Linked DNA regions of Homo sapiens: region 2 is linked to region 1. The links come from fine-mapping of genetic effects on gene expression. A gene starts in region 1. The other region holds a variant in brackets. All regions are shown on one strand. Distances are between the middles of the regions. Region 1 holds the start of TRMT9B (tRNA methyltransferase 9B (putative)). Region 2 overlaps TRMT9B (tRNA methyltransferase 9B (putative)).

The links.
Region 2: its variant is fine-mapped to the expression of TRMT9B in thyroid (GTEx, PIP 0.99).

What each region holds. Positions count from the first base shown.
Region 1 is chr8:12,935,642-12,951,300 of GRCh38, forward strand. TRMT9B (tRNA methyltransferase 9B (putative)) reads left to right here and starts at 10,032. Exons shown (of 5, transcript NM_020844.3): 1 at 10,032-10,325. RefSeq lists enhancers at 6,249-6,788, 15,226-15,659.
Region 2 is chr8:12,987,088-13,002,746 of GRCh38, forward strand. TRMT9B (tRNA methyltransferase 9B (putative)) reads left to right here. Exons shown (of 5, transcript NM_020844.3): 2 at 3,747-3,944. It overlaps LOC124901889 (a long non-coding RNA gene), which reads right to left. Exons shown (of 6, transcript XR_007060829.1): 5 at 670-842. Among named protein-coding and RNA genes, the nearest start is that of TRMT9B, 49 kb to the left of the region's middle. The variant A/G (reference allele first, on the strand shown) is at 6,709.

The sequences.
Region 1 (15,659 bases):
CTGGGGATTACATGTCAACATGAGATTTGGAGGGGAACAAATATCCAAAGTATTTCAGTGATATTTAAATAAAAGCTACTTTTTATCCTATTTGTATAAGGATATAGTTGTTTTGCAATTGCACAGAAATCTAGAGGAATAAAACACCCTTAAAAGAGGCTAATTCTGGGAAGGAAAGTGCAAGTGAGGGGAGAAGGAGGTTGTCAAAAGGGCCCTTTCTTTTGTACATCTTCCCTGTTGTTTGAATTTTTACAAAAATATATTTGGGTATTAGCTGTACAGTTAAACTATAAAATCTTATTTTGCTGGCTTTATAATAGTTAGCAATAAACATATATTTTTGCATTTCAGGGTATGGCTGGAGGCCATTTCAGTGCAATAACAACCATGGTGGGCTTTTTCAATGCTTAGATGTATTTTCTGAAATCAGAAGCTTGTGTTTATACTTTGGATAATTACAAATCCTTGATAATTAATTCCATGCAATTTTTACCATTTTGCTCATATGATATACATTTCTTGATTTTATAATTGGGAAATAAATATTTTATTTATTTCATTTTTGAGACCAGGTTTTACTCTGTCACTAGGCTGGAATGCAGTGGTGCTGTCATACCTCACAGCAACCTCGAACTCCTGGGCTAAAGTGATCCTCCCACCTCAGCCTCCTGAGTAGCTGGGGCTACAAGCACAGGCCACCACCCCAGCTAATTTTTAAATTTTTTGGTAGAAGCAGGGTTTCACTATGTTGCCCAGGCTGGATTGAAACTCTTGGCTCAAGTGATCCTCTTTCTTTGGCTCCCAAAGTGCTGGGATTACAAGCATGAGCCACTGTGCCTGGCCTAGTTTGTTTTCTATTTATAGTACTACTTACTGAGCCTTCAGCAATAGAGTAGGCGTCACCAATTGCCATCTCCCTCACTTCTCCCTAAATAATGATATTCAATTTTTCACCTTCATACAAGCATAGATTTGTGACTAATTATAGAAACCATAAGGGAAAAAGAATATACGGAGGGATAAGTGTCCAAAAACCCTGTCTTTCCTGAAATAATTCAGCAGTATTGATTTAGAGCAGTTGAATCATTACCACCCCTTCTGTAAATATATCAGTCAAGACAGAAATAACTTCTGAGAACTGAGCCTCTTCCTACTCAGAAGTGCTGTGACTGAAGGTAACAAAAATCATTAAAAACTTGAAATTGCAACAAAAGGAATTTAGATTAAATTTAATGACAAATTTTCCCGCTGTGAAAGTTATTAAATACTTGAAGAATTATAAAACTGTGAACATTTATATTTAAAAAATGCACCTCTCTCAATCATCATTAATAATACTTTAGCAATTCCACAAACATTTTTTGAGTATCTACTATGTTCCAAGTTCTGTGCTTGTCACTGGGAAGTATAAAGATGAATGAGACATGATCCTACACACAGGGAATGTATCAAACCTGTGAGAGAAATGAAATGCACCAATTCATTCATTTGTTGGATAAATATTGTAAATGCCAACCATTGGGCATTAGGGATATGATGGTGACCAGCACTCGACTATGGATGTGGAATAAGGGAAGAAAATTCTGTGATGGGTTACAGTGGAGCAAGATTATTTTGCCTGTGATATGAAACAAAGCTTTATGTAAGGGGCATTTGAACTCTGTCATAAGTACAGTTTTAATAGATAAAAATATGGAAAGAGGAAATGTCAGGTTGAGAGAACAGTATGAGGGAAAGGAAGAGAATGTGATAGTAGAGGGTGTGTTGGTATGTACCTGAGGCAGAACTGAAACTCAATACATGATAAACACAATAGGATGCTAGAGGCTATCACTAACAACCCCTAAATCTCAATAGCTCACATCACAGTCACATTTAGAATTCAGACTGTGATCTTCTACATGGAGATTCATGAATCTCTTGGGTCTCTCTTCCTTACTAATTCTACCTGTATTCAGCAGACAAAGAGAGACAGAGAATGAAAGAGCAAGAAAGAGAGATCATGACATAGAGGAGGCTGTACAGAGTGAGCACTAGAACTTGCCATGCATCATTTCTGTCCACATTCTATTGGCCAGAACTAAGTCACATGGATGTGGTCCCACTTAAACACAAAGGAGACTGGGCTATGTAGTCTCCTGCGTGCCCAAGAGGTAACTGAGCCTAGTTTGTTGATCACTTAACGTTATCTCTGCCACAGAGACAATATTATCTATAAAGACCAATTTATTTAAGAGGACTATTGTTTAGTGTTTAAGTAATTTGTATTTAGTTACTGATACATGAAACATGAACAACATTATGTACGTTGCAAACAACTTTTTTTTAATTTTCTTTTTTTTTTAAGAGACAGGATCTTGATATGTTGCCCAGGCTGGAGTGCAATGGCGATTGACAGGCACAATCATAGCACAGTATAGCCTCAAACTCCTGACTTCAAGAGATCTTCCCACCTCAGCCACCCAAGTAGCTGGATGGAAGCAAATATTGAATAACTATTTTACAAGATGCACTCGACTCTGAAAATGCAATAAATGATATAATTACTGAAGGTGCTTACAATTTAGACAAGGGAGAGGACACACAGAGTGAGAGAATTACAATATAATATGGCATATGGTAAATGACAATATACAAAGCAACACTTTATATGATTTTAATTTATGATTCATATAATGCTATTCTGAAAAAGAAGCAAAATATATTGTTATTTGGATTTCATTACATAGTTTTAAGGTAGGCTTATCGTATTCTCCAAGCATAGACAAAATATATTGGCCTTTAAAAAATCAGACAAGTGCAAATGAAAACTGAAGACCTTGATAAACAGACAGTATTATTTACTCTCTAAGGAAAGATACAATTCACATAGCTGTCATGGCGATTTAGTCAGTACACCTGAAAAAAGTTACTTGATCTCTTGACAAGTTAAAAAAAAAAGATTTTGACATTTCATTTGAATCATTTACATTTCTCACATAGAGAAAGTTTACCATAATCATTAAGAATATTGGCATTAGAGTTAGATGCAAATCATTTCAAGTCACAGCCCAGCTTTTTGTTGGCTTGGGGCAAGTTCCTTAACCTCCCTTAACCTCGGTTTCCCCCATTTGTGAAACAATAGGGATCATAACAATAATAACACTAATGCTTCCTCAGGATCTCCTGAGGATTACATGAGTTAAAGCTCCATTGTATTTCGTCCACCACAGGGCACATTATAAATACTTTTTAAATGAAAGATTATGAGAGTGTTAAAAATCAATGTTTTGTAGATTATTTAACAACACGATATGTTGCACAAAAAATGCAATTTAAAGTAAAAATGAATACAATGTAATCCCAACTTTGACTGACACAGACAGACAGAAAAGAAATGCACCAAAATATTAACAATGATGTTTGTAGGTGGTACAATTATGGATGTTTTTATATTCCGGGTCATACAATTCTGAATCTTCAGAAGTTTAGGGGTAAACATTTGTTTCTTTTATTTGCATCGTATTATTTCGAAAATCCCTTACATCCCTTAAACTTTGTATGCATACATAACTGCTTTATTAACATGATGTGATTCCATCTGTTATTTTCTCCTAAAGACAAGGCCACCCTGAGGAAACTCTTGACTTTGCTCTTGCCTTAGAATAATTGGCCAGCAACGTTAAAAATTCATCTGCTGAGAAGCAAATAGGTGTTTTGTTTGTTTGTTTCTAGTTTTTTTCTTAGTCAATAGTAAAAACATAACATACCTTTTCAAATCCTCATTTTTTTCCCCTTTTTTGTCTAATATTTCCTGGATCCTGAATGAATACATATTGGAATAATTCCAAATAATTTCTATTGTTAAATTTTACTGACATTTAAACATGACAATTGGAGATATCAAACTCTAGAACCCCAAACCATTGCAGAGTTTCTTTAAAGCTGAAGCTAAGGTATACAGAGTGCATACATTTATTTGGCTTTGTACATTTAGGTATAAATTGCAATCTTGAGAAAAAGTGTTCATTTTTGTTTCCATTTTAAATAGCTTTCTCTTTTGCATGAACATTTCTTTAAACATTTTTTAATTGACAGATAAAATTGTCTGTAGTATATATAGAGTAGAATGACTAAATCTAGCTAATTAACATATGCATTATCTCACGTAGCTATCATTTTTGTGGTGAGAGCACTTAACATGCACTAACTTAGCATTTTGCAACAATACAAGATGTTATTAACTATGGTCATCATATTTACCATAGATCTCTTGAAGGCATTCTTCCTATCTGACATTTTGTGTTCTTTGACCTATATCCCCACCACCAAATTGCAACAAAAGGAATTTAGATTAAATTCCTTTTTTAGATTCCACATATGAGTGAGATCACATGTTTTTTGTCTTTCTGTACCTGGCTTATTTCACTGAACACAATACCCTCCAGGTTCATCCATGTTGTCACAAATGGCAGGATTTTCGTCTTCTTTTTTTGAGACAGGGTCTCCCTCTGTTTCCCAGGCTGAAGTGCAGTGGTATGATCATGGCTCACTGCAGCTTCGACCTCCTAGGCTCAAGCAATCCTCCTGCCTCAGCCTCCTGAGCAGCTGGAACTACAGACACACGACCACACCAGCCTAATTTTGTGTGTACGTGTGTGTGTGTGTGTGTGTGTGTGTGTGTGTGTTTTGGTAGAGGCAGAGTTTCACTATGTTGCCCAGGCTGGTCTTGAACTCCTGGGCTCAAGTGATCTGCCCCACCTCGGCCTCCCGAAGTGCTGGGATTACAGGTGTGAGCCTCTGTGCCTGCCTGCCTTTTTTTTTTTTTTTTTTTTTTGGCTAAACAGTGTGCATGAACATTTCTTGAATCTTGATTACAAAATTACAAGTTAAACTTTGTGTAAACAAAATTTTCTTTTAACATGTATTAAGTTTGAATATAGGAAAATTGTGCTTGACATTTTTCTTAAATTGTGTGCTCCAGGTTATGCTGATCCGATTTGTAATCAGATAGAATTGAGAGAAGTGACCTATGTTACCTTACAGTTGCCTGTATACGTCCTGAATAGTAAATGTAGAAAAGCTTTGCTGTGGGGAAAGAAAAGAGCCACTGTCCAAAATCATGGATGAATTCTCTCCTGCAATTAAGAAAGTGATGGGCCATCGGAGAAATGCAAATCAAAACCACAGTGAGATACCATCTCACACCAGTTAGAATGGCTATCATTAAAACGTCAGGAAACAATAGATGCTGGAGAGGATGTGGAGAAATAGGAACACTTTTACACTGTTGGTGGGACTGTAAACTAGTTCAACCATTGTGGAAGACAGTGTGGTGATTCCTCAAAGATCTAGAACTAGAAATACCATGTGACCCAGCCATCCCATTACTGGGTATATACCAAAAGGATTATAAATCATGTCGCTTTAAAGACACATGAACACGTATATTTATCGCGGCACTATTCACAATAGCAAACACTTGGAACCAACCGAAATGTCCAACAATGATAGACTGGATTAAGAAAATGTGGCATATATACACCATGGAATACTATGCAGCCATAAAAAAACGATGAGTTCATGTCCTTTCTAGGGACATGGATGAAGCTGGAAACCATCATTCTGAGCAAACTATCGCAAGGACAGAAAACCAAACACTGCATGTTCTCACTCATAGGTGGGAATTGAACAATGAGAACACGTGGACACAGGAAGGGGAACATCACACACTGGGGCCTGTCGTGGGGTTGGGGGAGTGGGGAGGGATAGCATTAGGAGATATACCTAATGTAAATGACGAGTTAATGGGTGCAGCACAGCAAGATGGCACATGGATACATATGTAACAAACCTGCACGTTGCGCACATGTACCCTAGAACTTAAAAGTATAATTTAAAAATAAATAAATAAATAAATAAATAAATAAATAAATAAATAAATAAAGGACGAGCCAAGGAAACTTCCCACCCGTCTGGCCCTGAGCAGTGACTTCAACCTCTGTGCTATTTCACCTGCAATCTTCTCCTGCGAATGGCATTTTCTCCCGTTTTGTTGTTTTTGTTTCCTGATGGTAATTTATTTTTCTTTTAGACAAACTACAAGAAAAAAATAACTTCTCTGACCTTTAGTGCCTGTTTTGACTGCTCAGTTGGATTTTTAAAATGCTTCTAGTCATCTTTCTACTGATAATTGTTATTTGTGGCAACCTCATGGAAGAAGCTAAGGCACAAAATATAATTTTAAAGCGTTTACTTGAGCCAAGATGAGGACAGCTGCCTGAAAGACTCAGACCCAAGTAACTTTGGATATGAGCTTCATTCAACCTTTCTTACAAGCAGGTTTTTAAAGGCAACAAGGCAGACAAGTTGTCAGGAATTCCCATTGGTTAACAGAAATGACAATGATTAGTAATTAGCTATATATTTTTGAACTATAGGATATTAGTTATGGTGTCCAGTGCATGGCATTGTTAGGTTAATTTACAGCTACTTGTGGCGACAGTCAGTCTAGAGCAAGCAGATTCAAGAGATGATTAGCTTAGCTCCAGGGGAGAAGTGGGGCCTGACTGCTGCCTCATTCCCTTGCCTCTCTGGGCCTGATCATTTACAGGAGGCTTGCATTCCTCGGATAAAGTTTCTTTTCTTTCTCATTTGCTTATTCTGTTTCCTTTTCTTCTTTCACATTAAATGGGAAGAAGAAAGTACAAATTCCAGTTCAACAGGTATGTGCAGTCTTATGCCGAAACTAGGACGCCATTTTCCTGGATTATCCATGAAAACATTTTTTCATGGTCTCCAAGGCGGATTCCCTGTTCTGGTCTCAGCTGGATCCTTCAAATAAATTGGATGAAACCAATCTTTGCCATCTCTTTCTCGCGTTATTTATACCTTGACTTGACTCCTATTCCAAACATAACCAGTTTCATCACCAGTACAGAAGGTGACACCATCGGAGCAGGAAAGAGAAATAAGAGCTGCAAAGCCTGTGTTGTGAAAATACTAGGCTCATTCTTTGTCCAAACACCTGAAAAGACTGTGTATTCTGCCATTTGCCAAAGTACATTGTCATATCACATCAAAGAACCCCAGCCCAGGAGGGGACATTGAGGTGTCTGACACGACTTCCTGTCTGATGTATGGGTACCCTCTACAAACATCACCAGTAAACGAGCTGCCCTCTTCCTCTGCCGATCCAGAGACAAAGAGTTGTGCCTCTTGCAAAAGCTCTGCTTTTATGCAGTTCAAACTTTAGAAATCTCTTCCTCTAGTTGAGTCTAAATGTTCTTCCCCGTAACTTGCATTCACTGGTCCAAGTCTGCCCTCTGGAGCATCTCAGAATAAGTCTCCTTCCTCTTCCATCTCACAAGTTCTTCCTAAATTTTTCGGATGAATTAAATAGAAGCTTCTACCAACTATTAACTCCATACCCAGCCTTTTGAAATGCAGCTTGGAAAATGGGAAATTTTCCTACTGAACCTTTAGATCATAAATGGATGCAATAAAGAAAGCACCAAATTCCTTCTTTATTTTACAACTCTACAAATCTCTAGGGATGACATGAGCACAGGTGAGTGCACAAGTACACACAATGCACACACACACACACACACACAGAGTGACCCTATTTCTCCATTTTTCCTAGAGCTGACTTTCACACAAACCCAAGATTACCATTACGAATAGGTAGATATAATCAAGACACTTAGCCAGGGAGCCAACATTTGCCTTCACCTAACAAACAGAATGTAAATACAATAGGTAATTTATTTTTGACATAGACATAAAATAGCTTTTTACAATGGAATGATTTTCACTCCAGATCTAAGCAAAAATGCATTTTCTTTTAAGAATCGTGGGTGATCTCAGTGATTATCTGACTCAATGCTCTCTCTTTTTAGATAAGTAATTTAAGGCCCAGAGGTCTTGATTAAGATCAGTGTCACAGAACTCGGGTTATTTGAACTCTGAGAGGAAGGCTGAAGAAGATTAGTATTGTCTTGCTTGCTCTCAGAAGATAAGAGCTGTGCTTTGACAATTGCAAATAGTTTTCGAACAAAATTTTCTTATGGCACAGCTTTCTGAAACTATTTTACAATGCGTTAACTTCTAGTAACATACATTAGGATCTAATCTTAAGTATTAATTTATTTGAAAATATCTCAAAACTTGTATCCCCCAAAAAGTTCAAAATATATCTCCAGAGAAAAATAAAAACCAACTATCTCAAAATTCACCCTTTGTTTTCCCCAGAATCAAATCTCTAGGGATGACACGAGCACAGGTGAGTGCACAAGTGCACATAATGCACACACACACACACACACACACACACAGAGTGACCCTATTTCTCCATTTTTCCTAGAGCTGACTGTCATACAAACCCAAGATTACCATTACTAATAGGTAGATCTCATCAAGACACTTAGCCAGGGAGCCAACATTTGCCTTCACCTAAAAAACAGGATGTAAATACAATAGGTAATTTATTTTTGACATAGACATAAAATAGCTTTTTACGGTGAGAATGATGAGGTCATTGTGACTTCTACACTTGAAACAATTGGACTTTCTCGTACTTTTGCACTTGAGAATTTAAAATAATAATAAAGAGAACGAAAGAGTACTATGTTGGTACTGCTCCTCACATATTTCATTGGTAAGAGCAGTGATGAAATAGCAATAAAATTTATGAGACAAGAGTTGTGGCTATAAATAGGGATATGCTTTGCTCGCAAACTGCATAGAATCCCCTTCCCTTTAAAAAATATATAGAAGAGGCCAGGTGTGGTGGCTCATGCCTGTAATCCCAGCGCTTTGGGGGGCCAAAGTGGGTGGATCACCTGAGGTCAGGAGTTTGAAACCAGCCTGACCAACATGGTGAAACCCTGTCTCTACTAAAAATACAAAAAAATTAACCAGGCCTGGTGGCACGCGCCTGTAATTCCAGCTACTTGGGAGGCTGAGGAAGGAGAATCACTCGAACCTGGGAGTCAGAGATTACAGTGAGCTGAGATTGCACCACTGCACTCCAGCCTGAGGGACAGAGCAAGTCTGCCTCTCTCAAAAAAAAAAGTATATATATATATATATATATATATATGAAAATAAAATTCCATCACCTAGAGAAAATCACTAGTCACATTTTTGTATGGTTGTCCAGCATTTTCCCCTACATATATGTAAATATACTATATAATGTTAAAATATTGGGGTGAAACTGCTTTTTATTTAACACTGCATTGTATCTCCAGGTCATTAAATTGTCTTCAGGATCATGGCTCTGCATTTTTTAACATGTAGTTGCTCCCTTATTTATATAACACATTCTCTGTTGGTGAAATTTATTGTATTTTTTTGCAGTTTTTCTTTTCCTACCATGACAAATAAGCTCATCTTTTCCAGTCCTTGTTCATTCAAAGCTGGAAACAAACAACACACACACCCAAATCAGACCTGAGATTCTATGCACAAAAGTGCTTCTTGAAACAAATTATCTAATAGTATTGTAAAAAGAAAAAAAAAGAGATAAAATAAGCCAAGTGATATGTGTCACTCAGTGTTCCAGCGAAAAGCTGACTCCAAAAATTACGTGATCATAATAGCAGAATGATGAAAGAGTGACAGACAAAAGGTAAGAGCATGAGGATGAAGAGGTAATACTCAAACAGCTTTGGAAATGGAGAGGAAGCTGGCGAATGACACAAAGGACAGCTGGAGGATGAACCAGTTTCCCAAGGGGCAAAAGAAACAATGTTGTTTGACATCTTCAGCAAACATTCCAAACTGTAGGGAAGAGGGATGATGGGTTTGTGTTGGTGATAACAGCAAAGTATTAAAGCATGCCTAAAAACTTTCACCATAAAGCAACAATTATTCTTGGTAATGCTACCAGGATAACAAGTTTCTACATGTTGTCATGCTGGCAAAGAAAATAGGGTGTATTTAGAGATTAGATGCCCCATGGACATGTGGTCATGGAAACAAAAGCAAACAGCTAACGTGGCTATGTGTTGAGGTCAGTATTTGAGGGAACATCCGGTGTGTGTTTTATTCAGTATTGTGTAGTACAGAAAAGATCACACATGTATATGTCAGAAGTAGATGCACATGTTCTTTTGGCTTTTTTTCTTTGTTTTATTCTTTTTTCATTTTTTGTGTTTTTTGTTAGTTTGTTTTGAATTTTTTTTCTTGATGCATATGTTCCTTCAACTTATTCAGTACTTCCATGTGCAGGGCTCTGGACTAGACTTTCAGGATCTAAGGCTGAATCCTACACAGTCCTCCCTCTGGGAAAGTGATGAAACCTGTGAGCTCTCCTAGCAACTCTGCAGTCTTCCTTCAAGGTATGTGTTGCAATTTGGGGTTGCACATTTTAGTTGTGATATTTGTGATTAGTTGATTAATGTTTGTCATCCCACGAGACTATAAGTGCCATGAGGGTAGATATCTTATCTGTTTTGCTCCCCATTGCTTTTCTCACAGACTGCTCAGCAATGAATCTTTGTTGAATAAAATAATACTTTATACAAAGGTTAGTGATAAATGTAAGAAGCATCTAGATCAAGAACTGATACATTCTTAGGACAGAAAGATTAATCTAGACAATAGCTTTTTGTCTGGAATTATCTTTTATGGAAGAGACGGCCTTGGCAATCAGAAGAGCAGATTAAGCAATTAGTGTAATCATCTAGGTGGGAAGTAATGGGACATAAAGAACTAGAATAGAAACAATAAGAAGGGAGCAGAGTTGATAAATAAAAGCAGTACAGATACAAAATTGTCAGACGGTGGTCACCCATGGGCTATGAAGGGCAAGAAGAAGCAGAGTCTAAGAATGTGCCAGGTGACTGGGAGGACGGAGATTGTAGAAGAAAGAAAAGGGCAGCTGCTTTAGGTGCACGGAGGGCGAAGGACCTCAGGTTCGAATGTGTTGATGTCACCCTGGTGGAGATGTCAAGCAAGATGAGAGCATGGGATCTGCAGGTTTATGAGAAGACCAATTCAGAGAAACAGAATTTTGAGAAATCTACACAGCGTTTTTCCTTGCAGTTAGAAAGGTGGATGAGGTTGTCTAGGGAGATTATATAGAGAGAAAAGCAGAGGACCAAGGACAGGTGCTTGAGAAATGATGAGACTTGGCAGGACTACTTTTTTAAAAGTTCAGGAAGAAAGAGAAGAAGTGGCATTTCTCTTTTTGGTGCATAAAACCCTATAAGAGAAGAAACCATCCTATTCCCAATGCCAGGAAGTTCCCTATGTACCTTGAGAAGGTCTTCCAGGTTTCAGAGGTGTGGAAGATATCAGTTCCTTGGATAAAGGCAGCAGCTACACACTTTCTAGCAGCAAAATGGCTGAAGAACTGAAGGGTTTAGGATTTAGGAGATGGCTACTGGGACTCCAGCCCGTGAACATCCCAAAATGACAAAGACAGCTCTTGGTTAGCATGTCTGTCTCTAAATTGTGCTGACTAATAAACAGCTGTGAGCTCTTTGATTCTCAGTCCATTCTGACTGGGTCACTGTGGGGAATCCTTTAAAACCAATGAGGCCATAAAGCTTGAGCTTTGCCTATCCCTGTTGTTGGAATATTTTGTCTCCAGTCTCCTAAAGATCAGTCTGAGAGACTGGAACACACCTCACAATTTCTTCCTGCAATCTGAAGTTAAGCTCACCCGGGTCTACCATTCAGCCTGGTGATGATTCCACTTCCTTATGCATCAAGATGTTATCATGCTAAACTAGCTAAAACCACTAAAAAAATATGGGATGACTTGGAAAGGTGGAGAAAAGTGGGTAAAAATACAGTAATTTTTTTGGTAAGTCTCCATTAAGCTAATAATAGGTAAGCACCCTCAATGGCTAAGAGCCAGTACCTTAGACCACGTCCTTGAATAAAATAGATGGTCAAGGCTGAAGTGAATGAAATGGTGACATAAGCATCATGCAGCACATTTTGAGGCTTATGGCAACACATGCATATTAATGCAAATATGTGCATTGAGTTCTAAGTGCTAAGGACTGTGATAGCCAATGAGGATAAGTAAAATAATGGTCAAAAGCTTTAGGAAAAGAACTTACGTGAATTCCTTACTTAAATGCCATAACTTAAGAGACTTCAGGTGTGCAGTATTTATTACATAAGCTGGAGAAATTTCATGCTTTGCTAGGCAACAGCCTTGTAGTCCACAGGACATGCTAGATAGCTCCTTTGGTTGATTGAATTGGTCACATTTGGAAAGTGTGCAGCCTATGTATAAGGAAGCATTGGGGCTGCCTTGCTCAGAAACAGGCAGTGAGTAAGGCAGGCATTCAAGGAATCATGGCCGGCCATCTGTAGCCTTAAGAGGTGTGTGCCAGACCCAGGGAGTTGACTAATAAAGAAACTGAGTTAACTGAGAAAGGTCATAATAATATTATATAGTACTGTTGCTCCTTGACTTACGATGGGGGTTACATCCTAATAAACCCATTGTAAATGGAAAGTGTTGTAAAATGCATTTAACACACCTAACCTACTGAACATGATAGCTTGGTTTAGCTTAGCCTTAAAATGTGCTCAGAACACTTACATTAACCTGCAATTGGGCAAAACCATCTAAGACAAAGCCTATTTTATAATAAAGTGTTGAATATCTCATGTAATTTATTGAATCCTGTAGTAAAAATGAAAGACAATGGTTGTATGAGTACTAGAAGTATAACTTCTTGTGAATATGCATTGCTTTCAAATCATCATAAAGTTGAAAAATTGTAAATGAACCATCGTAATTCAAGGAACATCTGTATATATAATATATATAATATATTCTGTTATATATAAATATATGTATGTATATAACACATAATACAATAATTTATATTATATAAATATATTAAAATATATAATACATGTGAATATATATTCATATTGCATATATATTTACATTGCATATGAATATATAATATATAAGTATATAAATTATATGCATGATATAATAATAAAATGTAATGATAAAGAAACTTAGTTAACTAAGCAACACACAGTGAAGTTAAGTGTAACATTAGAAAAAAACAGAAGGCCAGGCACGGTGGCTCATGCCTGTAATCCCAGCACTTTGGGAGGCCAAGGCGGGTGGATCACGAGGTCAGGAGATCGAGACCATTCTGGCTAACACGGTGAAACCTCATCTCTACTAAAAATACAAAAACTTAGCCGGGCATGGTGGCAGGCGCCTGTAGTCCCCGCTACTTGGGAGGCTGAGGCAGGAGAATGGCGTGAACCTGGGAGGCGGAGCTTGCAGTGAGCCGAGATCGCACCACTGCACTCCAGCCTGGGTGACAGGGCAAGACTCCGTTTCAAAAACAAACAAACAAAAAACCAGAAAAACACGTGTTCAACGTTTCATAGTTGTCTAATTTCTGTTGAGACTATGGCCAACACACTTTATAATTCTTCCTCAGAGAAAACGTATTGTTTCTACATAGACTCTACTTATTAATAACAATCTTATGTGTGGCATCACTGGCCTGTTTGTATTGTTTTCTTTTTCTTTTCTTTCTTTCTTTTTTTATATACAAAAATCTCCATTCTAAGAACTCAAGTTAGGAAATGCCATAGGATTGGTTATGACTACCGAGAGTAAAAATCCACTGAAATTTTAAAAAACTGAAAAACGTTAAACCTCACAAATAATGAGAAAATAATGCAATAAACCCCCATGTGTACACCCAGCATCAGCAACTGTCAATATTTTGACAGTCATTTTTTATCCTTTCCTCCTTTTTGCTGAGATGTGAAAGTGAAATTCTCTGGTACAAAAATAACATAAATGGCTTAAAAGTCTAGCTATGTTTCTCTGGTGTACAAATTTTCTTTACAGTACATTTTTCTTTCCTTTCCCACAACCATTACCCAAATTCTACTGGTGGTCACTGAAATGCCGCTTATGATGGCCTCAACTAGAAAAATCTCTTTATTTTTCTACCTGCCTCCAAACAAGAAAGAAGTTGGTAACTCATGTCATAGTTCACAAGTCTCTAGGGATTCTACATGTCTGCTTCAAGCCGTCAGTGAACTTTCAGAAAACAAATGCAAATATTTTACATTTGTTTATTATATAAGGGGGTTTCAAAGCTTCTATCAACATTTTCATAGGGGCCTATTACCTACAAAAGGTTAAGAATCTCTGCCTCTATTATGTCTTGAAAGCATATCAAATATACTTTCTCACTTCCACTCCCTAGTTAATTCTATTTATTTATTTACTTATTTTGAGATAGGTTCTCTGTCACCCAGGCTGGAATGCAGTGGTGCAAGCACAGCTCACTGCAACTTCAAGCTTCTGGGCTCAAGTGACCCTCCTGCCTCAACCTCCTGAATGGCTGGGATCATAGGCATGCACCACCACGCCCAGCTAATGTTTTGTATTTCTTTCAGAAATGAGGTTTCACTATGTTGCCCAAGCTGGTCTCAAACTCCTGGCCTCAAGCGATCCTCCCACCTCAGCCTCCCAAACTGCTGGAATAACAGGCATGAGCCACCTCACCTAGTCCTTAGCCAATTTTTTATATCTAAATCAGACATTGGACACCACTTCCAGGATGCCTTCCCTGACAATGTCACCTATAACTGATTTCCCTTATGTTTTCCTACAAAAGTTAAGGTAGGTTACTTTCCTGTTTATCACAGTCTTTCAATCACTGGACGAGTATTTATCAGGTCCTACTATTTGCCAGGCACTATCCTATACTTTAGGTATGCTTTGTCTCCTAATGCACTGTTAGAAGAGGACAAGGAACATCACAGTATCCAATACGTCTTCTGTGTCCGAAGACATATTGTAGTTGTAGCTCCAGTGAATGGAAGCAAGGATGAGCTGCTGCATTTCTGTAGCTGGCATTCAGCTCAAGAATACGTAAAACCAGACTCGTGGTTTTTTCTTTCTTTCTTTCTTTCTTTCTTTTTGAATGTGAGGCCTTTACAGAAAAAGAAAATGTCAGTCTGATTATCCAGGGCATGAGGATAAAGAGAAGCCCAAACAAAGGTTTCCCCCACTCCACCCCACCCAATATACTGTGGCACTAGAAAACGATTCCAGAATCAGAAACTATATGCTGACGTCCATTAGCCCTCTTAGTAGCACCTGAAATAGACCAGCGTCTATGTGAGACCTGTAGTTGTGTCCTCACAAATAACCTGTTATAGACCAGCGTCTATGTGAGACCTGTAGTTGGGTCCCCATAAATAACCTGAACTGGAAACAACAGCTCGACATGAACTCTGCCCCCTACGCTGGGGATCAGGAGCACGAACCTCTATACAAAGGGCGGCAGAGCGGTTACTAAATGTGCTCATTTTTCGTCACTAAGAACGTGCATTTTTAAAGTGCATAGATCCCTGATGATAACGGAGTTGTTTGATAATAGGCGGTTGAAGATACTATTACGTTAGGGACCTGGAAGAAAGTAGTTAACGCTATTGTCATAGAAGCAATGGGGGGAGGAAAGGTTTGTGTCCAGTTTTGGGCAAAAACTTCTAAGTTCCACCCCGCCTTCTGATGGATGCTTTTTTGATGGGGCTCGTTTTGCAAAACTCAGCAGATTAGGCATGTTGTGTAGTGGAATGATTTGGAGCGTCTAAGCCGTGGCACCCTACTTAACCCCCCCATCTCCAGTTATCCCAATGAACCGACCCCGAGG
Region 2 (15,659 bases), 51 kb after region 1:
TGCCTCCCTTTCTCCTCGCCATCTGTATAGTTAAGAGTGCGAACGCTAGGGTCAAATTATCTGGGTTCAAATCCTGGCTCTGCCACTTACTAGCTATGTAACTTTGGGAAAGTCACTTAGGTCCTCCTTCTTATCTGTAAAATGGGAGAACTAGTAGTTCCTATATTATATAGTTATTGGGAAGAGTCAATGTGTTAAATGCTTACAACACGGCCTGGCCCATAGCAAATAATTAATACAGACACTTCTCCACTTATGATGGGGTTACATCCCAATAAACCCATTATAAGTTGAAAATATTATAAGTCAAAAATGCACTTAGGCCTGGTGCAGTGGCTGACTTCTGTAATCCCAGCATTTCAGGAGGCCAAGGCAGGAGGACTGTTTGAGCCCAGGAGTTTGAGACCAGCCTGGGGAACGTAGGGAGACCCCATTTCTACAAAAATCACAAAATTAGCAGGATATGGTGGTACACGCCTATAGTCCCAGATACTTGGGAGGGGCTGAAGCAGGAGGATCATTTGCACCTGGGAGGTCAAGGCTGCAGTGAGCTACGATGGTGCCACTGCACTCCAGCCTGGGCAACAGAATGAATACCCTGTCTCAAAAAAAAAAATGCATTTAATACAACTAACCTACAGAACATCATAGCTTACCTCCCTAGCCTACCTTAAACGTGCTCAGAACATTTACATTAGCCGACAGCTGGGCAAAATCACCTGGCAAAAAGGAACACTGTCAAATCTCAGTTGTCTACATTCATGATGGTGTGCCAACTGGGAGATGTGGCTCTCTGTGGCTTCCCAGCATTGTGAGAGAGGATCCCACCGCATGTCATTAGCCTGGAAAAAAGATCACAATTCAAAATTCAAAGCACAATTATTACTGAATGTATATCACTTTGACACCATCATAAAGTCAAACCTTCATAAGTCTGGGACCATCTGTATATATTTCTGTGCGTGTGTTGCTGTTATTGCTGTTGTTATTCATTTATTGGCTTTGTGTCTTTCTTTTTGCATATGCTGTTTCATATGCCTGGAATCACCCACTTCTCCTTTTCACCTGGCTGACCCCACTCATCTTTTGAACTTCCGTTTAGGTGTCAGCCCCTTGAGGGAGCCTTCACTCCCCCTTCCCACTCCAGGCTGGATCAGTCGCCTATGTGCTCCTGTAGCACCGGCGCACACCCACATCATAACATTCTTCACACCAGATAAGGGGTATTGACATTGTGATTTTGAACACTGTTTAGATCCATGATAATTAATAATTTGCAATAACACAAAATGATTATTTTATAATGATTGTATGAATATATGATTACAGTATTAGTCCATTCTCAGGCTACTAATAAAGACATACCCGAGACTGTGTAATTTATAAAGGAAAGAGGTTTAATTGACTCACAGTTCAGCATGGCTGGGGAGGCCTCAGGAAACTTACAATCATGAGTGGAAGGGGAAGCAAACATATCCTTCTTCACATGGCGGCAGCAAGGAGAAGTGCCAAGCAAAAGGGAAAAAATTCCCTTATAAAACCATCAGATCTCTTGAGAACTCACTCACTATCATGAGAACAGCATGAGGGTAACCACCCCTATGATTCAATTACCTCCCACCAGTTCCCTCCCACAATACATGGGGATGATGGGAACTACAATTCAAGATGAGATTTGGGTGGGGACACAGCCAAACCATATCAATTCTATTATTTTTTAGATGATTATATCAAATAATCTTGATTCTTGGTATTAAATAAGGCAAGGCATGAGTTTGGGGAATCACATTAGCTCAGGATGTATCCATCCCAGAAGTAAAGTTCTACTGCACTTTAATTTTCTGTTTATTTGTATGCTTCAGATATTAAATTCTGGGGTCCTGAATGGGGTGAGAGCTCTTTTATCTGTATCCCTAGTGCCTTACATCTGCCAGAGATTCAGTTAATATTTGTTGAAAAGATGAATGTGTATTTTTAATTTAATACAGAAATTTTTTTTTTTTCAAAAATCTGGCTTTGCCCCTGAGCCATGGTTTGTGGTGCTGACCCTCTTCCCAGGAAAATACACGCATGGCTTATTTCAGAAGGTTTAAGGTACAGACCTTGCCCTAGAAGATGGCCTCCTGTTTAGTCAAAGAGAAGAGAAGAAGAAATGTGTTTCTTTCAATACTAAATATGACTGATTTAATAAAAAGTCTCAATTGGAATTCAACTCCTTTTAGATATATACGACCCCATTCTATCTTTGCCCAGTAACTTCTTGGAGAAGGTGATATGATTCATGCACTTTAGACAGAGGCAAATTTGGATCCTAATTTAGGAAAAAGAAGCAAAATCAGTCATATTTGTAGGTGTTTTGGGTGCCTGATTTGGGCGTATAGACAAGCCTCCTGCCCAGGTAGCACACATATGCCTCCTACTTCTACACTAGCTACAATTCCTCTTCTCATTGGTACTCTTACTGATGGGGGCGTTGAAGACTTTGCCTTTGGTGGCTTATCTGAGGGGTCTAACACATTTAGGCACAAATGCCTGAAGGAAAGGCGCATAGACAACCACATTGTCTGATGACAGTCGACTGCCCAGGTCAGAGCCTGGCAGGGTAAGTCCGAACAGAGAATCTTTAGCTTTACCCTGTCATAGGGACTCAGTTAGCAAACATCATCTCTCTTATAATTAAGGTAGGCTCTAAAATTGCATGAGGAAAGATAAGATGCTTTGGTAGCTCTTTCAAAATGCTTCTTAAACGCACTTCTAAAAAGTTAGCTTCTGTGGCTCTCAATGGCACAGATCATGTGCCTACATATGAGTGAGATGTAGCTGGGGTTAAAATCTATAGGCAAGTTCTGAAGACTAGAGAGAAGTTTTCCAAAGCACATCCAGATCATTGATTCTTAAATAGGGGCCAGGACTAGGGTTGGGCTGGTGTAGGGGAATGTTGGGGGAAGGCACACGCATCTCTGAGTAGAAAACCCACACGCACCCTGCCATCGTGAGAATCACTGGGTGTAATAAGAAGTACAGTTTGTGGCAGTGTGGTGAACACACAAGTGATAAGGAAACTAGGAAAAATGGTTGCAGGCTGGGACTTAGATTATGGTCCATTCACCCCACTTGCAGACAAGCAATTAGGGTCCAAGGTGTTATAGGATGGGCTTTTCCTATCATATCAGGCATCTCTCGAGATCTCATTGTATATCACAAGACCTCTATATTACAAAGTGGTTTTTGGTGCATTATTTTTTTAATAACTAAAAGCCTTTTGATGGGTTTCATAACAAACTCTTATGAAGAAGAAAAATGTGAACAATGATGAATAACTACGAGTACTTATCAAAGTGACAAGAAAGTAGCTAGTAATATGGAAAATATTGAGCAGTCCAATTGTACTGGAATGATTTAGTACAATTTAGTAATATTGTCTTAGGTAGTATTTATTTAATTAAGCCCCTGGAATCAGAGATGACTCTCAATGTTAGCAATTTTCCCAGGAACAAGATGAAATCATTCAATTTAATTTTAGGAGAAAGTATTGTATGTTTTATAGAAAGCTTAGGAATTGATTTATTGGCCTATTGATTTGAACTGCTCTTATAATTCTGGCACACTCCACATATTAACAATTCTTTCTAATCCCTACTTGGCTGGGTAATTTATGCATAGGTCAGGAAGTCAGCCTGGGCTGTAGCTGGCTCCATATACATACCATGTGAAATGACATTTAGTATTTGTTTTCTTCCTGATAGGGCCTGTGCTTCCTTCAGAGACTCACACAAGAGGTTTATCATGAGAAGGACCGCACTATTTCATTTCACTCCTACAAGTTTTCATTTACGTTACACATTGAGAAAGTTATGAGAAGCAACTGTCACTCTCTGGAGGTGGAGACTGCCGTGATTCACAAAGACAAGAGGTAATTTTCCTGTAATCACAGGATGACTCAGGTTAGTAGCTTTCAGCGCTTCTGCAACTCACATACCATGAGGTGTTTTTAGCAATGTGCATATTTAGTGAACCTAATTCTTCCCAATCCCTATAATTTTAAATTTATGACAATGTGATATAAAGTAAGTTGGAATTTATTTTTGCATGAGGTGGAAAACAGTATTTGAAAGTAGTTGTACAGGGTATGTAAAAATTATAAGAACATATTTAGCATTTTTAGAAAGCAAAATACTTTTGTAGGACTTAAACATATTTTTAAATGAGATTTTTATCACACAAAAGTTTACAATATCATTTGTACTTGGAAATGATATATAGATGTTAAGTGTGAAGTTGCATGTATTAAAAAGTAAAATGAAAAAGCTATGCATTTTGTAATTAGGTCTTTTTTATAATGTAAGTTGTCTTTTAACTGTTCGGACCAACTTGCATTTTCACTTTAGAATTGTAGTTTAAGTGTGTCTTTGAAATTTAAAGCAGAATTTTATGCTCTCTCTTTTTTAATTCTGTGTCTTCTGTGGCATTTATAATAGGAGAGCCATTTCCAATATTTGTATTTCTTTTTAGTTATGAAAAAGTGACCATCGTATGCCTAGATTGTACCTATAATACAGACCTGGCTGGGCGCATTGGCTCATGCCTGTAATTCCAGCACTTTGGGAGGCCGAGGCAGGTGGATCACCTGAGGTCCGGAGTTCAAGACCAGCCTGGCCAACATGGTGACCCCGTCTCTACTAAAAATGCACAACTTAGCCAGGCGTGGTGGTGGGCGCCTGTAATCCCAACTACTCGGGAGGCTGGGTTAGGAGAATTGCTTGAACCCAGGAGGTGGAGGTTGCAGCAAGCCGAGATTGCGCCACTGCACTCCAGGCTGGGCAACAAGAGCAAGACTCTGTCTCAAAAACAACAACAACAACAGACCTCTGGGGCAGCAAATCAGAAAACACAAAATAAAACTGGAAAAGCTCAGTCTTGCTTTCCTCCAAGTGCCCATTGACTCACAGCTGGCTCTTTAGGATTTATAACCAAAGAGTCAAGGACCAGCTTGTACAGAGTAAAGTATTGTTGTTTTGCAGAGGGAGCTAAGAAACAGCTCCTTGATTCATTGGATCTACAATTAATTATTGAGTGATGCTCTGTGTTCTGCACTATCCTAGGCTCTATGATGTACAGATGAGACATAGATAGAGATATATAAAAACATCACATTTCCATCTCTGCCGTCCAAAAACTTATAATCTATTTGGGAACATATACAGAGTTGAGAGTTCATGACAGTATCCGGAAAAATGTCCTAAGAGTGATAGAGATAATAAATTTGCAGTGTATAGAAGTCCTGGGGCCGGGCACAGTGGCTCACACCTGTAATTCTAGCTCTTTGGGAGGCCTGGGTAGACAGTGCAGTGGTTCACCATCAGAGGAAATGTGATAGGAGGTGTAGGTTCTAGACTTGGGCATATTGTCTCTGTGGTATCTGAAGGACAACAAACTTAGATGGTCATGAAGCTCAGGAGAACTTCATTTAAACAGCATCATTGACTGGGCACAGTGGCTCATGCTTGCAATCCCAGCATTTTGAGAGGCCGGGTTAGGCAGATCACCTGAGCTCAGGAGTTTGAGACCAGCCTGGGCAACATGGTGAAAACCCATCTCTACTAAAATACAAAAAAAGAAAAAAAAAAGCCAGGTGTGACGGCATGCACCTGTGGTCTTGTGGTCCCAGCTACTCAGGAGGCTGAGGCAGGAGAATTGCTTGAATCTGGGAGGCAGAGGTTGCAGTGAGCAGAGATCATGCCACTACACTCCAGCCTAGGAGACAGAGCAAGACTCCATCTCCAAAAAGTAAAAACTAAAAATAAGTCCTGGAATGGATGATTTTTATCTGTAGTTACCCATAAATTCTTTATGCAGGAGGAAGAAACTGTGCTAGACTTTGCAGACCAGTAGATTTTGGCAGGAGGAAGTGATAGGAGAGCATTGCCGGTGAGAGAGAATAGACTGCTGGCTTCAGCAAAGACCTGAATAAGGTCCTGAGCAAGTCCCTCTCGGGAAAAAGTGAGTAGATTTGTGTGGATACAGCTGAGAGTCTGAGGTACTGTCGTTGCACGATATAAGACTGCAAAGTGGACTGGACCAGGTCAGGGAGGGTTTTCGTGACAGACTGAGGAGTGCAGGTGCTATCCCGTAGGCAGCAGAGGTCCCCTGAAGGGCTTTCAAGAAGGAGTGAATATTATCCAATGAGGTTGTATAGAAAAATTAACCCTGCACTGCCATGAAATAGAGATTCTAACCAACTTTCCTTGAATTCATAGAAGGAAAATCATGAATTGTAGCCAGCAAACCAGGAATGGCACATGTGCTATGTGGTTTACGCAGTTACCTTTTACTGTAAGAATGTATTGTGTCTCCAGCCAAGTGGACATTAACAGAGAAGGTTGTGTTGCCAACTCCCATCTTTATGAATATATTAGAGGGGATAGATGTGGGGGGTGCAGAGACAGCAAGAGGAACAGACAGACCAGTTAGACTAGCTGAGATACTAGGGGATGGCAGTACAAACAGAAAGACAGAAAGGGGGCAAAGGTGCCAGCACTGTGACAACTTTGATCTTCTAGGCTGGCATTCCAATAGCACATTGCTATCTCAGCAGATTCTTTTGCTCCAGTCAGAGTCCCTTCATCCATTTGTGATGAGTCCTGTTGGCAACCCTAGTGGCCATGGTACATCTCTTTCACTGTGGCCCCCACTGGGGTACATGCTGTG[A/G]TTGTGAAGAAGCATTCAAGTTTGTAATACTTTAGTCCTTTGGCTATACATGTCAAAATCAACTAAAGCAAGAAGGAGGATTTGTTGGGAGTGCCTAAGTAGCTGGCACAATAAAAGGAACTGCTGCAAACTAAACCTCGGGAAAGTTACAACTTGGGATGAGGCATGAGGATCTTTTCTTCAGGGCTGAGCCATCAGCAGTTCTGCTCCAACCTCTTGTCAATTTCCTGGGCGAGGGAGAATAACTGTCCGAGACTGGATCATGTGCCCACCCCACTGCCACAGTCAATGTGCCTGGCAGGCCCCAGTGACACTTGGAGTCTGAGAGAGGTGCAGTTCCCCAAAGGAACAGAGGATAAACAGAAGCTTTTAAAAGTATTTTAATCTCTAAAACGTCTGCGACTGCAAATAGTGGTCATATGTGTGTGCATGGTCTCAGGCTTGGGAACGGATCAGGTATTCCCCAGAATCTTAGATCTCCAAAATTACTTTTCACTGCTACCTCTGATGGACCCTCTGCTCTTTCAAACTAATGTTTTGAAAAAAATAAAACTTTTTTATTTTTTAAGAAGATACTGATATTGACTAGAAGGTATTGACTAGGCAATACCTTCATGCCTGCATGCCTCTAGCTGCATGGATTAAGTGTCTTTTCTCTTTCTCCCTTTCCTTTCTTCCCTTCGGTAGCGCTCAGCTCTTCAAACACATCAAGTGCCCGGAGGTGACTTAATTTATGCGTCTTAGCTATGTTGGAATTCTCAAGTTTGCTACTTTCCCTGAAAAGCAGGCTAAGAGGACCTTAAAAGCAGAGTGGCTTGTCCACCTTTGGGGAACCCTTGAATTGATTCTTCTTGCAAGTGCAATTTAAACGACAAGAAACGAACATTTTCTTTTTTTTTATTTGAGACGGAGTTTCGCTCCTGTTGCCCCGGCTGGAGTGCAGTGGCACGATCTCAGCTCACTGCAACCTCCGCCTTTCGGGTTCAAGCAATTCTCCTGCCTCAGCCTCCTGAGTACCTAGGATTATAGGCATGCACCACCATGCCCGGCTAATGTTTGTATTTTTAGTAGAGACGGGGTTTCTCCATGTTGGTCAGGCTGGTCTCGAACTCTCGACCTCAGGTGATCCACTCGCCTCGGCCTCCCAAAGTGCTGGAATTACAGGCGTGAGCCCCCGCGCCTGGCTGAAAAGAACATTTTCAAATCTTGCCTACGCTTCCAGGCTGAGTTCCAAGGCGCAGCTCCCGACTTCTCATGCATTCGTTTGAAGATGTGTCAGTTTACACACACAGAGGGCTCACTGAAAATTTCCCTTTTTAATAATTTCCTAATACTGTGGAAATGAACATAATAAACTGCAACACAATACAACTCTAGACTTTCTAGAGCAAGAATTGTTAACCTTTGGCATTATTTTGGGTTTTAGTTTCTTAACACAAAGCTTCAAGCAAGTTTCAGCTGCAGTTAGAAGCAGTCAAAATGTAATTTCCATTAGTGATAAATGTGTAAAAAGTTAAATGAGCAATTGATATTTGATTATATAAATCTAGTTTGAGTGCTAATTGGAGTAGATATAAACAAATTTATACAAAGTTATATATTTTTTACCTTTTCTTCTCTCTGTTCTTTATACATATTAAGTCATAGCTCTTAGCTCTTTGTCTGCTTTCCTTATTCTCCATTTCTGGCTTTCTTTGCACTAACATATATGAACCGCATGATAATCACTCAATACATATATTAATTGCCCGTTTCTTCTCCTTGCACTTCCCCTGGTTTCTTTCTTCTTTTCCTTGTCATTCTGTCTTGATCCTTTTCTTGATTTTTATAAAGAAAACTTTACTGATACACATGTTTGTCTTCTTTGTGTTGTTTTTGTTTTGGGTTTGGTTTTTTGGGAGGGAACACTGATTCATCTATTAGTTGTGTGTGTTTCGGGAGATTAACCATCCAGATACCAATTAGACCCAAGTCATTGTTGTCTTAGGTTCTAAGGCTTTTAAATATTATAACATTTTTCAGAAAGATTTTATTCTCTGCAGACTAAAAAGCTCAGCAGATTTTTCCAATAACTGCACATATAAAGAGCCACATAAACAGTAGACTAAATATCACAGATGATCCACATGAGAGTAATAAATGAGGACACTAGTTTGTCCATACATTTTTCATAAGGTACTGAAATAACTGAAAATTGTCTTAACGAGTAACAGTAACCATGAAACAGCAAGATAATTAGAGAATGAAGGTAAGCAGCAATAGCAACCACCTGCTGCTACAAGCTGAGGATCATGTAGCCTCCTTCCTGGACCTTTACACAATTTATGTTCCCATCTATTTATTGAGATCAGTAATCCTCATACATTATTATAGTTGTGCTACTTGGAAGCTGTGGCTGGCACAATTCATCCTTAATTTCACTTTGAGTTATTGAGTAAAGCTATTCAATGTGTAATAAGATCACAAATATAAGGTAGGTAAAATGAATTTCCTTCCTCTCATCATACTGATGAGTCACTTACCTGGTGCCCTAACTGAAACAACTTCTTTACTGGGAGCAAATGGACTCTATTCTTGGCTGGTTACTGGATAATCTGGCATTAGACATTATCTCATTTAAGTTACTTATTTCTTCAGTTAGATTTCTTCTGAGGCAAAACTCTCTCAGCACTTTCTGTATATACTATGACATAATCTTATTGAATGGGGATACTGCTTTGACATTTCACCTGATCTTTGAACCCAGTGATCTCCAATTTCTAGCTGCCCAGAAGGCACTGACTGGATGGCATTCATCCCTCATGGGAATGGCAGAACACAGATGAGAGAGGATACTCTGCTCAGTTTTAAGTTCTAACATGGTTTAAAGTACATAACAAGGCAACTGCCTCAAAGCAAAAGGGGGTTTTAATTGAAATATACATGGACCAAAGTGCATATATCATAAATGTACAAATAAATGAATGAATTTTTCATAACCTGAGCGCCCTCATGTAACCCGAGCCCAGATCAAGAAACAGAACATTATCAGCACCCCAGGACCACCTCCCAACCCCCAGTGCTCCCTGCCAGCTGCTACCCCAGGCAGCCTCTATCCCACTTCTAATGGCCCACATTTGTTTTATCTGTTTTTGTACCTTCTTTATTTTATTTTATTTTATTTTATTTTATTTTATTTTATTTTATTTTATTTTATTTTATTTTATTTTATTTTTTATTTTCTTTGATCTATCTATGGGCTCATGTTTTTGTACTTTCCATAAACGGAATCCAACAGTGTGTATTCTTTTGTGGACTTCCCTTTTAATATGATATTTGTGGAATGTATATCATTTGGATGTTTGTCCCCTCCAAATCTCATGTTAAAATGTGACCCCCAATGTTGGAGGTGGGGACTATTGGGATGTGTTCGGGTTATGGTGGTGGATCCCTCAGGAATGGCTTGGCATCCTCCTTATGGTAATGGGTGACTTCTTGCTCTATCAGTTCACATGAGAGCTGGTTGTTTAAAGGAGCCTGGCATCTCCTCCCCTCTCTCTTGCTCCCTCTCTGACCTTGTGACACACGTGCTCCTCAGTCACCTTCCACCATGAGTAACAGCTTCCTGAGGCCTCACCAGGATCCAAGCAGATGCTGGTGCCATGCTTGTACAGCCTGTAGAACCATGAACCAAACAAACTGCTTGTCCTTATAAATTACCCAGGCTCAGGAGTTCCTTTACAGCAACACGAAATGGACTAATATAGGGACTGATCCATATTGTTGCATATGGTTGCAAACTTCCATGCTACCCTGGTAGCATTTCATTCTATGAATATACCACAATTTATTTGATCATTTTACTGATGATGGTCACATGTGCAGTTTCCAGATTTGTGCTACTTCGAAGAGTGCTTCTTTGGATATTCTAGCATATGTCTTTTGGTGAATATGGGTGTCCATTTCTTTCGGATATATGTATATACTTTTAAGAGTGGGGTTGCTGGGCCATAGGCTATGCATATGTGTAGCTTTAGTTGTTGCTGTCAGGCGGTTTTCCAAACAGATTGAAACAATTCACATTTCTTCCAGTGGTGTATTAGAACTCACCGATTCCATGTTTTCACCAACACTAGATATTCTTTGTGTTTTCCATTTTACCCATTCTTTTGTATAGGTGGTGGGATCCTATTGTGGCTTAAATTTGCGGTTCCCTGATACTAGTGAAGTTAAGCCCCTTTGTGTGTGTTTCCTGCCCGTCTCCTGACCATTATGAAGTGTCTGTTAAAGTCTCTCGCCCATTTTTCAATTGTGTTGTCTTCTATTACTCTGTGATTTGTAAGAATTGTTTATATTCTGGATACTACTCAATTGTCATCTGTATGTACTACGAATACTTCTTCACACTCTGGGTTGAATTTTCCTTCTCTTCATGGTGTCTTCATTTTAATATAGTCTACTTTATTTTTCCTCTTATGGTTAGCACTTTATATGACCCTTTGTAAGAAATTTTAACTTACTCCAAGGTCATGAGGATGTTCTGTATTTTCCTCTAAAAGCTTTATTGTTCTGTATGATAGAAAGAGGTTTTAATTCATAAATGTATGTCAGTATTTGGAGACAGAACTGTTCTAAAGCCACGTGTGTTTTCCATAGAGCTAAAACATAGAGGACTCACTACAGGCAAAAGTGTGGTACAGAAAGAAACTCAAGATAGAGGTAATAGAAGTTCCCATCACAAACAAATGAGAAATCCCTTCTGATGACAGGGCTAAGTGCTTACAGCCTATTACCCTGGCCTCTGTGCTAACTTCTTAGGAGGAGCAGGTATAAAAAGCACCGTCTTGAGGACATTTAGTTATAGCACCTCCTCCCTGGTGACAAGGAGCCACTCTTGGGGACAAAACAAAGCCTTCTTTCTCAGAGTTCACTAGATTTCTGTGGGTCAAGTACAGAGTGTCATCTCCTTGATGAGACAGTAGAAAAACCTTTTCCCTGGAAGCCTTTTCAGTTCCTCAGAATATTTTTACTATTTGCCTCTGGGTGTGAATATGTGCATAGCTTTCCAGTGATCATTAAGAAGCTGGAAAAACTTGGGAAAAAACCTTTTTACTTTTATTTGTCAACACATCAAATACTCAGAGTTGCCTTTGAAATTGTGGCTGTTGGATATATATGTTAATGTCCACCTCTCTATCCCTGTTTCTTTACCCAGAAACATGGCATTAAGAAAGATTGTTCAGGGGCTGGGCGCAGTGGCTCACGCCTGTAATCCTAGCACTTTGGTAGGCCAAGGCAGGTGGATCATGAGGTCAGATGTTCAAGACCAGCCTAACCAACAGGGTGAAACCCCGTCTCTAGTAAAAATACAAAAATTAGCCAGGCATGGTGGTACGTGCCTATAATTCCAGGTACTCAGGAGGCTGAGGCAGGAGAATCGCTTGAACCTGGGAGGCGGAGGTTGCAGTGAGCCAAGATCATGCCATCGCACTCCAGCCTGGGTGACAGAGGGAGACTCCATCTCAAAAAAAAAAAAAAAAAGAAAAGAAAAAAAAAAAGAAAGATTGTTCAGGGTGGGAGAAGATGGGAGGGGTGATTTATTGGGGGAAGGATATGGTCATTATCTTGAGTGTCTTGATGGTTTCACACATACATACACGCATACGCACACACATATGTATGTAAAAACATCAAATTATATACTTTAAATATATGCAGTTTGTTATATGTCAATTATACCTAAATAAAACTGTTAAAATATGATTTAAAAATTTAAAAGAAATATTGTTGAATTGGCTAGAGTTCCATCATTCATGAATTCACTAAACGTATTTAGACCTATTACATTTAGGGCCAGTGCTAGATATTATGGGCTAACCAAAGATGTGTATGAAATCTTGTTTCTTATTTAGAAGTTCAGAATCTAGTAGAAATACTTAAGCCATTATAATACTTTACAGCACATGACATATTTCAAGTGCTGTGGAATTAGGGAGTGTAGAGGTTATATTTCTTTGAGAAGGTGGAGAAGACTGTAGGTAGAAGTTGCCACTAGGCTCACAATATTAAGTTCAAAAAAGTAGGATGCAAAACTGTCCGGTTTTCTCTCAATTTTATTATAATATATCTCTACGAGAAAGAAAACTTTTAATCTTTATGAAGAAAAAAGGGGGAACTTATATGGTAACAAGTTGTCATCTAATAAAAACTGATGTATACTTTTCACTTTTTCATGATCTAGATATTCTACAGTTCATATGATGAACTGAGCTTTTTATTCCTTTTGGTGGGTGGGATTAGAATACCCATGATATCTCTCCATCAAGAGTTCTGAGGGACCCAGGCTGATGCCTCCAGGACAAGGAACATTTCATTGCAGTGATAAGGGATAGGGAACTTGGAAAGCAACACAGTGGGGTAATCCTGATCTTTTCAGATGACGTTTATGCCATAGCAAGTCACTTAGGGTTTATCTGAATTCAAGTAGGTAGAAAAATGTTAGCCTAATCACATGTCCAGGGAAGGAAAACTAAACATTTGTGACTTCTCAGTAGAACCCTGTTGCTAGTAGCAGGAATTGCCAATGTCCTTCTCTTTGTTTTTCTACCCTTTGGAAACATGCCAGGCCACTAACTCTCCTGTTAGTTTTCTGTCACTTTCTGTCCTCTCTTCCATCCTCCAAGAAATAAATGCTGGAAATAGGCAGAGTTTGTGGGGCAAGGGAAGGAACAAAGATGATTCAATGTCTGGGATCTCCTCTTCTGTGCCTACATCAACTTCCCCCAGCAAAGTTAGTTGTATCTTTGTCTACTCAGTCTCATTTATGTTTTTGTCATCACATTTACGATTTCTTTTGATTGCTAGCATTCAATTTTGGGGGTTTGTTTTAAGGTTACCTCGTAAGCTTTACAAGTTGCTTGAAAAGTAGCAATAAAGGTAAGATATTACAACACTATGTGTCAGCATCCTTGCACGCTAGTTATTTAAAGTGTAAAATAATCATTTCAAAATGTTAATTAAAAAAGCAGTTTCCCTGCCTTGGGAAAGGTGTGGTTGTAAGAAACAGAAGTGAGTTCAAGTGAAGAATATTTCAGGGCTAGAACAGGGTATGGATTTGAGATTCAAGGTTAGGAAATGAAGTACCTCAGGACGCAAGGCTGGTACTGTAAAATGAACAGGTTTCTTGGAGATGAGTGACCCTGAGCCCCTATCTAGAGCCTACATAGGGACTAGAACTAGAATATCATCTACTAGACTTCCCCAATCTTTCTGCCTTTCCCCCCACCATGTTATGAAGCATCACGGATTCTCATCTTGTTTTTCTTTCCCTACAGCTACATTTATTTTGCAGAAAAATATTCTTTTGCTTCATCCATATGTGCATGGCTAAAAATGGACTCCCTAACACAGACTCCAAGTGATCACAACCAACCACTTGTGGTCATCTGACTATTCAGGTCTTTTAGTTCAAATTCTCAAGACTGGGTCAGTCTCACCCATGGACTGGTTCCCTGTAGATCTGGTTTTCAACCTGGGTCCACTCAGTGAGGCGGGGATCCCTGGAAAGAGGAGGCACAAGGCTCAGAAGCAGGTTCTCTTGGATCGACAGTGATGAGCAACTCTGATGCGCATCCTTCTGACTTCCTAGTTAAAACGTTTACCGTCTCATACTTTTAGTCTTTTTATAAACCATCTTAGAAGTTATGATTTGTAGATAACATACTTCACTAAAACTACATGAATGAAAAAGGATGATCAGGAAAAATGCTTTGTTTTGGGGACATTCTTAAATTGGAAAACACTAAATTAACATTTCCACAGTGTCTTCTACAGAATATTATTTCCTAAAAAGACAAGAGGTGTTTAAAGACAGAAAGAGTATTATAGACCCAATAATTCTGAGAAAAAAGCGAGATTTTTGAAACATCAACCGGGACTCTTTTCTCCAAGATTTTTCAAAACTCATAGTGTGCTGGTGTGCATTTTGAATCTCAAAGGAGGGACACAATGTGAGGCTTTAAGTACTGACTTTTTATGTGGATTATTTTATGGGTCTGGAATTTGACAGCACACAGATTAGGAATCCTGGCTAATCCAAACCCTTTATCTCTCGCTTCATCTGGAAACCCGTGCTCTTGTTTTAGTACTAGTCTTATTAGCTTAGTCACACTTTCAAACTCACAAGGAATTTGCTTATATAAATAAAATTCATGTGGAAACTATTATAGGAAATTTAAATCCGCAGCATTTAAAATTTAAATCTGCAGTGTTTATAAAGTTAACTGTAAAATATCAGAAAAACAAAATAGATTTATATTACTTATACACTTAAAAATAACTATCTTTTAGGTTACCCGATGGTAGTAGAGGCCATAGAAAACTTAGGGGAAGATCTTGGGGGTGCTGTTCAGATACTACAAATTCTGAGCTTGAAATTGAAGTCATTTTTAAATTGCAATTTGCAAGGAACCCAGTTTATGTCGGTTACCACTTAACATTTCCAAGTGCAACAAAGAAAAACTTGCTTGTTCTAGTGTTCTCTAAAACGTATTGCTTGATTGATTCCTTGAGAAAGGGGAAACGTAAATAGACTAAAATCTACTGAGATTTTGATTTAAATGAAAAGCACACAGTGTTTCTGTTTTTCTCTTGTGTGGGCAGTTATAGCCAGCCATATGTTTACTTCGTAAATTTCAGTTGAAGGTGCAACATAAGCTGTTTCAATTTGGGTGGAAGTTTAGTCAGACCTCACAAATTAGATTTATACTCAGTTAGGAGTTTGCTAGGATTTTTTGCAGGGGCTGTGGGTAGGTTCATACTGATTAAAGACAACCTATTACGTTTTAAGAGTAAATCCTGAATATCTGTTCCTTGAAACGGAAGGAATGATGGAATTATATTATCATCATTCGGTGATACTTGTAGTAATAATTGGGGCAAGAATCATTGGTAGATGCTAAAACTGGTGGGTG